Regions from separate parts of the Homo sapiens genome. Here region 1 is linked to region 2. Evidence: fine-mapped expression QTL. Tissue or cell type: whole blood. Region 2 holds a variant in brackets; the other region holds the start of a gene. All regions are shown on one strand. Distances are between the middles of the regions.

Region 1 (5,000 bases), 22 kb after region 2:
CTAGAGTAAGTCTCCATAAAGGCTGGGGAAGCACACACCTGTCATCACCTGGAAGGCAGCCACACTGACGTAATCCTCTGCCACTTTCTGGAAGAGCTCGTCTGGCAGGAAAAATGATGATCAGCGAGGGCCCAATGCCAGTAGCCCTGGGATCTCCCAGTGACCCAGCCCTCTGTGCCCTATTCAGCTTCCTCTGGTGCCCCTGCATGTTCCTGCTGTGAGGCTCCAGCACAGCACTCACCCACACTCTGGCCTGTCTTGCTGGATGTTTCAAAGAGCTGAGCTTTGATATCTGTAAAGAGAAGTGACTAAAGCCTCATACCTGAGAATTAGATAAACAGACAAAAGGGAGGGCTAGCAGTTCAGGGAGTCTCCTGGACCCCACAGTTCAAGGAGGCCAGGAAGACCTCCTAGAGCACCTTGCCCTGGCAGCCAAGGCAGTCCCTATTTTCTTTGATCCACCCAGACAGCCACACACCCCCACCCCCCAAAGGGCTGAGGAGCAGCTACTGTCTGCATAGTCCTGGACGTCGTGGAAGTCCACACGTCGACGCCTCCGGTCTTCTTCCAGCAGGTCACTCTTGGTGCCACATAAGTAGATTTGGCAGCCCTGAGGCAGAAGACAAGGGTCACCTCCACAGGCCAACAAAACCCCAGCCCCTAGTGTTCTAGTGAGGTCTGTTCACCTACCTCCTCTAGGCTGCGCAGTTCCTTCACCCAGAACTTTGCTCGCTCAAAGCTGCTGCTGTCTGTGAGGTCTTGGTGTGCGGCATGCAGGAGACAACCAAGTGGTCAAGGGCTGTTCTCTGGCTAGCCTGGCACCCATCTTTTCTTGTGAGACAGCCCAAACCCCCCCCCCCCTTACCATAGCAGACGATGGCAGCCTTGGCACCCCGATAGTAGATTCTACTCATGGCCTCATAGCGCTCAGAGCCTGCTGTGTCCTAAAGAGTAAGGCCTGAGTCAAACTTAAGGCCACGTTCTCCAGACCCCGCTATTTTCCAGATAAGGAAACGGGTCTATGAGAAATGGGTCTGTGAGGCCACAAATCAACCAGTAATAGGCAGGACCTACACCTCCTCAGGAATGAGTCTCCCAAGAATAGATGGCCGGGGGACTTACCCAAATACCTAATGTCACAGTCCGGTCTCCGACCGACATCACCTTGGCCACGAAGGCGGCCCCGATGGTCTGCAACGAGAGGGAAGAGATCGGGGCCATAGGTGCAGATTACCGGCCCCCCACTCCCCCGCCCACCGTGCCTGGCCCCTCCGGATGCACTCACGTTCTGATAAGGCCCCACCAGAAAGCGGTCGTGCACGTAGCGCTCCACCAGGCTAGTCTTGCCCACGTACTCCTTGCCCAGCATCACCACCTTGACGTCCACGCGCTGCCCGCTCATGCTCCCGGGGCCGCTTCAGCCACGTCAGGGTCCTGAGCGGGGACGGGAGGCAAACCCCGATCTCCGCTCGGCCCAGGCAGCGCCCAAGCCTCAGACCCCGACCCCAAACGGCGCCAACCTACGACTCCAGACAGCGCGTCGGGCTCGAGCTCTGGCCGTGGCCTTGCACTTCGGCAGCGCCCCGTGTGCCCCCGCTGTTCGGCCCCGGGCGCCGATTATCCTTCGAAGACCCCAAGCCTCGGGGCGGCCTGGGAGCGCGCGGGACAGCGTCCTCAACAGCGCAGCACGCCGCCGTGCAGCTCGCTACTCCGTCATTCGCTCGCCTGCCCGGCTTAAGCTCCGTTCTGGCTGGGAATCCCAACCGAACCTGGGGTCTCCCGCAACCCGGCTCCTACCCGCAGCGCCGCGACTCCCGCGGGAGGGGGCTAGAGGGCGAGGGGGCGGGGCCGCAAGGTCACGTGGCGCGGGCGCCGGAAGCGGTGGCTACTGTGTGGCTGCGCCGGAAGTGGCGCGCGGCCGGACAACTCATGGCGGCGGCGGCGGCGGCGGCAGCTGCTTGGGCGCGGTGCGGTGGTGACTGAGCTACGAGCCTGGCGGCGGGTGTGCGCCGAGCCCCGGCCCGGCCCGGCCCTCGCGTGCCTCCCAGGCTCCGCACCCCTGATGCTGCGCGGGTGCTGAGCCCGCTTCGGCCGGGACGATGGTGAAGTATTTCCTGGGCCAGAGCGTGCTCCGGAGTTCCTGGGACCAAGTGTTCGCCGCCTTCTGGCAGCGGTACCCGAATCCCTATAGGTACGTGGTATTTGGAAGAGCAAAACCGCGCCATCTCGCTATCTGGAGATCGAATTATGGGTAACCCCCAAGTACTGGGACCAGGAAGGACTCGATATCGAATCCTAGGTAGACCTTATCGGGGAAGCGGCCAGGCCAGGCCTGCAAGGTCCTGAAGGGAGGTTGGGCCTGGGTGGTGGTTTACTTGAGACCTTAGTGTAAGATTCTTTTCTCAGTGTGGTGAGACAAGAAGAGGCGGCAGTATGGGAGTTGGGAGGGATCTTGGAGTTGGAAATCCTATTTCTCTGCCCGTGGCGCTTTCCTGGGGTGCAATAAATCATGAGGTCCATTCCTGCTAGAAGGCAGGAATCCAGGTCAGTCAGATGGCGGGAGTGGGAATTTGCCCTGGGATGGGCCCTTAACTCTGGTTTGAACCATAGCACATACCACCCTGCAAGGTTACGGGAAGGCGTGGCCTCTCTAGGCCCGGAGCCTCCAAATGGGAATCCCCTCGGGCAGTCTCTTAGGGGCAAGCTTCTGAGGGTCACCTTCACCCTGACACCTGCAGCAAACATGTCTTGACGGAAGACATAGTACACCGGGAGGTGACCCCTGACCAGAAACTGCTGTCCCGGCGACTCCTGACCAAGACCAACAGGATGCCACGCTGGGCCGAGCGACTATTTCCTGCCAATGTTGCTCACTCGGTGTACGTCCTGGAGGACTCTATTGTGGACCCACAGAATCAGACCATGACTACCTTCACCTGGAACATCAACCACGCCCGGCTGATGGTGAGACACCTCCTGTTGTGATTCTGCACCTCCCCCTCTCCCCTCCCCCCGAGATAGAGAGCTCCTCAGATACATGTGGCTAGAGAGCCATAAGGCAGCTTTTGTGGCCGGAGGCAGGTCTGGGTTACTGAGGGTTGACAGCTGTAGAGTATGACCTCAGGTTTTCTTCTTTTCAGCTGGCCATCCTCTCTGGACCTGTCCTTTGACTCATTCATACAGTGGGGGAGGGGTACCTATCTTACGGAGTTGTCCTAAGTTCTAAATGCAAAGCGCTCCCATCTGGCATCTATGGCACAGATATATGTTGGACTCACAGGAGTGATGCTGAGTGGCGGAGGCAGTGCTTTTCTTTTTTTTTTTTCTGTTTTTTGTTTTTTTCTGGTGACAAGAGTCTCACCCAGGTTGGAGTGTAGTGACATGATCTCACCTCACTGCCACTGCCACCTCCTGGGTTTAAGCAATTCTCGTGCCTCAGCCTTCTGAAGAGGTGGATTTCTAAGCACACACCACCACGCCTGGCTAATTTTTGTATTTTTAGTACAGACAAGGTTTTACCATGTTGGCCAGGCTGGTCTCGAACTCCTAACCTCAAGTGATCCGCCCGCCTCGGCCTCCCAAAGTGCTAAGATTACAGGCGTGAGCCACCGCGCCGGGCAAATGTTTTTATTTGGACTGTCAGGAAGCTCCAGAGCTGCAGCTGGTGGAAGGCGGCTAAAACACTGCATGCGTCTAGATGCACAAAACAAAATCCAGGAGCAGGATGGGCTGGAAGGCCCTTTGTTGATCTCAAGAGAGAGACCTTTTGCCTTCTAGTTTAAGAGTCAGAAGAGAGGTTTTCGAGAGCAAAACGACCTTATTTATGGCTTCTTGTTCTGTCAGTGCCACTTGGAGGTGCAGTCAGGGGAAGGAATGGATTTTCATTGTATTGCTTCGCCTCATGAAAAGTGACAGGGAGTCAGATTTATGTGCAAGTTGGCAAAATGAAAGACTGTTCCACGATTGTGGTTGGCCTCTGCATAGGTGGTGGAGGAACGATGTGTTTACTGTGTGAACTCTGACAACAGTGGCTGGACTGAAATCCGCCGGGAAGCCTGGGTCTCCTCTAGCTTATTTGGTGTCTCCAGAGCTGTCCAGGTGAGCAGTGTTGTTGGGGCTGCTGGGGCTCTGGGACCCAGTGCTTTCGGTGTTGGGGCTGGGCTGGGGTCAGTGGGCAACTCAGTATCCTTCCCATTCTCATCTCATGCCAGGAATTTGGTCTTGCCCGATTCAAAAGCAACGTGACCAAGACTATGAAGGGTTTTGAATATATCTTGGCTAAGCTGCAAGGTGAGTTTCTGGGTATGTGGATATTCCTCATAGGGAGAGGCTCATTCAGCCTAGCGGGCGTGGAGTCTGGGTTAGTCATTGCCCTGCTCTGAGCTGGGACTCCTTGTCTGTACTGGGGGTGGGAGGAGGGTGAATACCACCTTTTTAGTGGAGCCTGGCCCAGAGGAGATTGGTGTCATGGGGGAGGGAAATTAGGTTGGTCTTTCAGGCATCTTCTAAAGGCAGCCACCTGCCGTTCGCGACAGGCGAGGCCCCTTCCAAAACACTTGTTGAGACAGCCAAGGAAGCCAAGGAGAAGGCAAAGGAGACGGCACTGGCAGCTACAGAGAAGGCCAAGGACCTCGCCAGCAAGGCGGCCACCAAGAAGCAGCAGCAGCAGCAACAGTTTGTGTAGCCAGTCTACCACCACCACAGCACCCCAGACAGCTAGGCTTAGCCTCTCTGCCCTCCCTTCATTGTACTTTATCATTAAAAATCAACTTCCAGCCCTGTCTGCTGTCTACGTGGTGGGTTGTGGGGATGCAGTTTGGCATCTGCAGTACACCAAGCACATGATTCATGTCTGAGCCAGGTCTGCTTATTCTCCCATTGGGCAGCTGAGGACCGAGGCACAGAGGTGCGGTGACTTGCCCGGGGCTCCAGGTAGCCTGCAGGTTAACTGGCGGTAAGTGCTAGACTGTAAGCCCGACAAGGGCAGGGCTTTTGGTTTT
Region 2 (5,000 bases):
CCAAGTAGCTGGGACTACAGGCGCCCACCACCACACCTGTCTAATTTTTTGTATTTTTAGTAGAGACGGGGTTTCACCGTGTTAGCCAGGATGGTCTCAATCTCCTGACCTCGTAATCCACCTGCCTCGGCCTCCCAAAGTGCTGGGATTACAGGCGTGAGCCACCGTACCTGGCTCGTATTTTATTTTTTTGAGATGGAATCTCAACATATCGGCCAGGCTGGAGTGCAGTGGTGAAATCTTGTCTCACTGCAACCTCCGCCTCCTGGGTTCAAGCAATTCTTGTGGAGTTCATATTTTGTATGTCAAGTGAGGCTCTGTTTTTATATGAAACTAAGTGTTGATAGTTCAAAATCATGGGAAATGTGGCTGCAACTTCAAGGAAAAAAAGTTTGCCTTTTTCAGGACGTGAATTGTCTTCTGCTGACTTGTTTTATGCGGTGTACTTTGTGTTACTTTTCCAGGTAAACCGTCCTATTGGCAGGGTACAGATCTTCACTGCAGACTTATCTGAAATACCCCGTTGCAACTGTAAAGCTACTGATGAGAACCCCTGTGGGATAGACTCTGAATGCATCAACCGCATGCTGCTCTATGAGTGCCACCCCACAGTGTGTCCTGCCGGAGGGCGCTGTCAAAACCAGTGCTTTTCCAAGCGCCAATATCCAGAGGTTGAAATTTTCCGCACATTACAGCGGGGTTGGGGTCTACGGACAAAAACAGATATTAAAAAGGTTAGAAAAAGCTAAATTACCATATACTTTCTCCTCTTTGCAGTTGCTTGATATCATTGATCCTTGACATTAGAAAATTCATCATAGAAGAAAATAACACAGTTAATAATTAACCTTATTGTTGTGTCTTGCCATATCCTTCTACCGTTTAGAGGCTTACGAATGGATGGTTTTGATCTCCCAAGTCCTTTGTATTGATCATGGTCACTGTGTAGGAGGTTGGAAAAAATGGGACATTCATAGAGATGCTATGGCTTTGTTTGCTTTTTTGTGAATATCCTACAGCTGGTAATTAAGAGAGATGACAGTGAGCACATGATACAGAGACATTGATCCACCTACTAATAAAACATTTTTAGTGAGGAAAAAACAGGTCTGGCTTCATGAAACATGAAGGATAAGAAGGTTAAGCCTTATTGGATGAAAATGCAGTCATGTCTTCAACTTAAAACTTGGCAGGATCTCTAAGTTTCTAATAAATAAATAATATTGTATAGTCTTTTTTTTTTTTTTAATAAAATAAGCCTTATTCTGGTTACATTTTCTGAAGAATTTTATTGGTTTCCAGGAAATGTAGTGTATATGGGTTGGCGTTTAGTCATTTGCTAAGTAGTTATTTTTATATTTACTGTATGTGCCAGGTATTGTGCTGGGGATGCACTAACCAAGACGAGAGATATGGCCTATACTTTCATAAAATTTACATTTCGGAGGGAGAGAAATATTGAACAAATCATCTCCCAGTGTGAAAGTATAAAGGGCTCTAGAGATGTGTGACAAAGGAACTGAAACTAGTTTGTCTCTGATGATATTATATTTTATTTTATTTATTTTTTGAGAGAGGGTCTCACTCTGTCGCCCAAACTGGAGCGCACTGGTGCCATCTCCGCTCACTGCAACCTTCAACTTCCAGGCTCAAGTGATCCTCCCATCTCAGCCTCCTGAGTAGCAGGGACTACAGGCTCGCATCACCACGCCTGGCTAATTTTTGTATTTTTTGTGGAGGTGAGGTCTAACCATGTTGCCCAGGCTGGACTTAAACTCCTGGGCTCAAATTATCCTCCCAGAGTGTTGGGTTTACAGGCATGAGCCATCACTCTTGACTTGTGAGGCTATTTTAAATTGAGACTTGAAATATAAGTAGCTGTTGACCCAGGCAAGGTGCATTAAAGCCCTGCAGGTTAGGAGTGAACACGTGTGAAAAGCCAGAGTGACTGTAGCATAATGAATAGGGAGGATGGTACTTTGAAATATAGAGCAGAGCAAGCACCAAGGAAGATGAACATAGTTTATTTGGGGAAGCCAATTCTCGGGCTCTGGGGCAGGTAGAGATTGGCCATCCATCTCTCTTTATAAGGACGCTCTAGTTTACTTACTAATCTTCCATTCTGGAGGATCTTTAGTATCCAGTGTATCCTAATCTTTCTGCTGCTGACAGTGGTAGGAGTAAGGAGGTGTTTCTCATTATCAAATAGTTGGGGATCGTAAAGTAATTAT[G/A]TGTGCCTAAAATTATACTCATGTAATCTGCTTTGTAGAATGTGATGTTTTCATTAATTTTTTAAAAAAATGTATACATTTGGATACCAGTGTCCTTTTTTGCCATTAAGTCAGGAGGTATTTCTTGTTCTAGGGTGAATTTGTGAATGAGTATGTGGGTGAGCTTATAGATGAAGAAGAATGCAGAGCTCGAATTCGCTATGCTCAAGAACATGATATCACTAATTTCTATATGCTCACCCTAGACAAAGTAAGTAATGGGAAATGCTGTTTTCACTGTTACAAGATTGTAAATTTGTGTTGTCCCAGCCATAGTATTTGTAGGCATGTAACGCAGTTCCCAAGGTAGGGTCTTTTCCCATACCCATTGGGATTGCTGGATTGGGGTTCTGGAGTAGGTAAGAGTGCTCATTTTCTGGGTATTCATGGCCAGAGGCAATACAGCAGCTTTTAGCATTGTTTTTGAACAATTCAATGAAAATTGGAGCTTATATCTTTGAGTATTTTTTCTACAGGATTACAAGTTTGAACTCAGAAAAGTACATAATTCTTTTTTATTTTATTTTACAGTTGAGAAAATTGTTAAATATTTAATTATTTTACTGATAAGATTATGTAAATTTTTTTTTAAAATTATTTTGAGACAGAGTCTCGTTCTGTCACCCAGGCTGGAGTACAGTGGCATGATCTCGGCTTGCTGCAACCTCTGCCTCCTGGGTTCAAGCGATTCTTCTGCCTCAGCCTCCCAAGTAGCTGGGACTACAGGCATCCGCCACCACGCCCGGCTAATTTTTGTATTTTTAGTAGAGACAAAGTTTCACCATGTTGGCCAGGCTGGTCTCAAACTCCTGACCTCAGGTGATCTGCCTGCCTCGGACTCCCAAAGTGCTGGGATTACAGGCATGAGCCACCGCACCTGGCCTTAGTTTTTATAATAAAACCCTTTCTTGGTATTTACCTTTGTAAACATTTCTCAAATTGTGCACTAGGATTTGTGAGATCTTCACTTCCAGATATTCTGATCTTACTTTGGGATTGGGACTCCGCATTAGTATTTAAATCTCCTTAGGTGATTTCTAATGTGCATCTGGGTTGAAACTACCTAAATAGAAAGTGGGACAAGCTGCTATTTGTAGGGCAGTGGTCCTCAAACTTCAATGTAGTCAGAAACCCCTGGCAGCCTTGTTATATATAACGCAGAATGCTGCACCCCACAGTCTCTGCTTTAGTGTATTTGAAGCACAACCCAGGAATTTGCATGTCTAACAAATTGCCAAATGGTGATGGTGCTGGTCCAGGGATCACACTTTGAGAACCAAAGTTCTTTGGGATCTTTTCTCTGAGAGGTTCAGTCTTTACAAATAGAAACTCCAACTTATTAGAGAGAATAGTCAAATTTTAATCCACAGCAGAGGTCTCAGGAAGTCTGATGTGTAGCTTCTTTTGGAATTCTAGGACCGAATCATTGATGCTGGTCCCAAAGGAAACTATGCTCGGTTCATGAATCATTGCTGCCAGCCCAACTGTGAAACACAGAAGTGGTCTGTGAATGGAGATACCCGTGTAGGCCTTTTTGCACTAAGTGACATTAAAGCAGGTAAGAATCATTTCAGGATTCTGCAGCTGACATCTGAATTTCAGGGCTTTTGTTTTTTACAAACAGCTTCCTCAGATTATAATTTTAAACATTTCTATATGTACCGTTCTCTGGAATTAAGTTCATTTACATTTTTGTGCAACCATCACCACCATCCGTCTCCAGAACTCTTTTCATCTTCCCCTGCTAAAACTCTATACCTACTAAACACTAAGTCCCCATTCTTCTTTTTCTTCACAGCCCCTGGCAACTACCATTCTACTTTCTGTCTCTGAATTTGACTACTATATGTACTTCATATAAATGGACAATATTTGTCCTTTTCTGACCACCTCATTTCATTCATTCATTGATTCATTTTTAATGTTTAGGGACAGAGCATTGCTCTGTTGCCCAGGCTGCACTACAGTGGCACCATCACAGTTCACTGCAGCCTCAAACTGGGCTCAAGCAATCCTGCTGCCTCAGCCTCCTGAGTAGCTAGGGCTATAGGCACATGTCCCCATTCCCAGGTTTTTTGTTTTTTGTTTTTTTTTTGTAGAGACGGAGTCTTGCCGCTATGTTGCCAAGGCTGGTCTGGAACTCCTGGGCTCAAGTGATCCTCCTGCCTCAGCCTCCCAAGTGCTGGGATTACAGGCATGAGCCACCTCGCTTAGCTTGGCTCATTTCTTTTAGCACAGTGTCTTCGGAACATGGATGGTTTTAATGGAACAAATTTTCACATTCATATGAACTTACCACTAATAGGTTTGCTTTAGAAACTACTAGCTCTTCAGTCTCCTTTCTCACCTTCCTGAAGTTGCTCTTCTTCCACTTTATAAACCAAAGATTGATCTCTCACTCTTCCATATCTTATGGGTTATGGACCCAAGGCTATTTTAAAAATAAACCACTGGGTGTGGTGGTATATGCCTGTAGTCTCGGTTATTCAGGAGGCTGAGGCCAGAAATCGCTTGAGTTCAGGAGTTTGAGAAGCAGCCTGGGTAGTATCGTGAGAACTCTGACTCTTAAAAACACACACACAAAACAACAAAAACCTCTCAACCTCTAGGATGTCAAAGAACAGGATCTTTGGAGAATTCACTGCTCTGTCATGGCTCACCTGGGTGCTTGTCTCTCTAACGGGGTAGCGAGATGGTTGTAACCAGGACAAATAGTAAGAAGCTAATTTG

Evidence for each region. PIP is the estimated chance that this variant, and not a neighbour inherited with it, causes the effect.
Region 1: it holds the start of PRELID1, and the variant in region 2 is fine-mapped to the expression of PRELID1 in whole blood (TOPMed, PIP above 0.99).

The regions. Positions count from the first base shown.
Region 1 is chr5:177,301,887-177,306,886 of GRCh38, forward strand. It overlaps PRELID1 (PRELI domain containing 1), which reads left to right and starts at 1,913. Exons shown (of 5, transcript NM_013237.4): 1 at 1,913-2,191; 2 at 2,739-2,964; 3 at 3,985-4,098; 4 at 4,212-4,290; 5 at 4,536-5,000. The coding sequence starts at 2,100. The coding sequence ends at 4,684. It overlaps RAB24 (RAB24, member RAS oncogene family), which reads right to left and starts at 1,833. Exons shown (of 8, transcript NM_001031677.4): 1 at 1,286-1,833; 2 at 1,123-1,191; 3 at 866-944; 4 at 691-758; 5 at 511-610; 6 at 242-292; 7 at 39-101. The coding sequence starts at 1,402. It also overlaps a transcript of MXD3 not described here. RefSeq lists enhancers at 1-723, 1,888-2,765, 2,404-2,503, 2,614-2,663, 2,684-2,743 and 2 more and silencers at 1,724-1,793, 1,844-1,923, 2,034-2,173.
Region 2 is chr5:177,280,101-177,285,100 of GRCh38, forward strand. NSD1 (nuclear receptor binding SET domain protein 1) reads left to right here. Exons shown (of 23, transcript NM_022455.5): 18 at 465-734; 19 at 2,365-2,481; 20 at 3,687-3,828. Among named protein-coding and RNA genes, the nearest start is that of RAB24, 21 kb to the right of the region's middle. The variant G/A (reference allele first, on the strand shown) is at 2,232.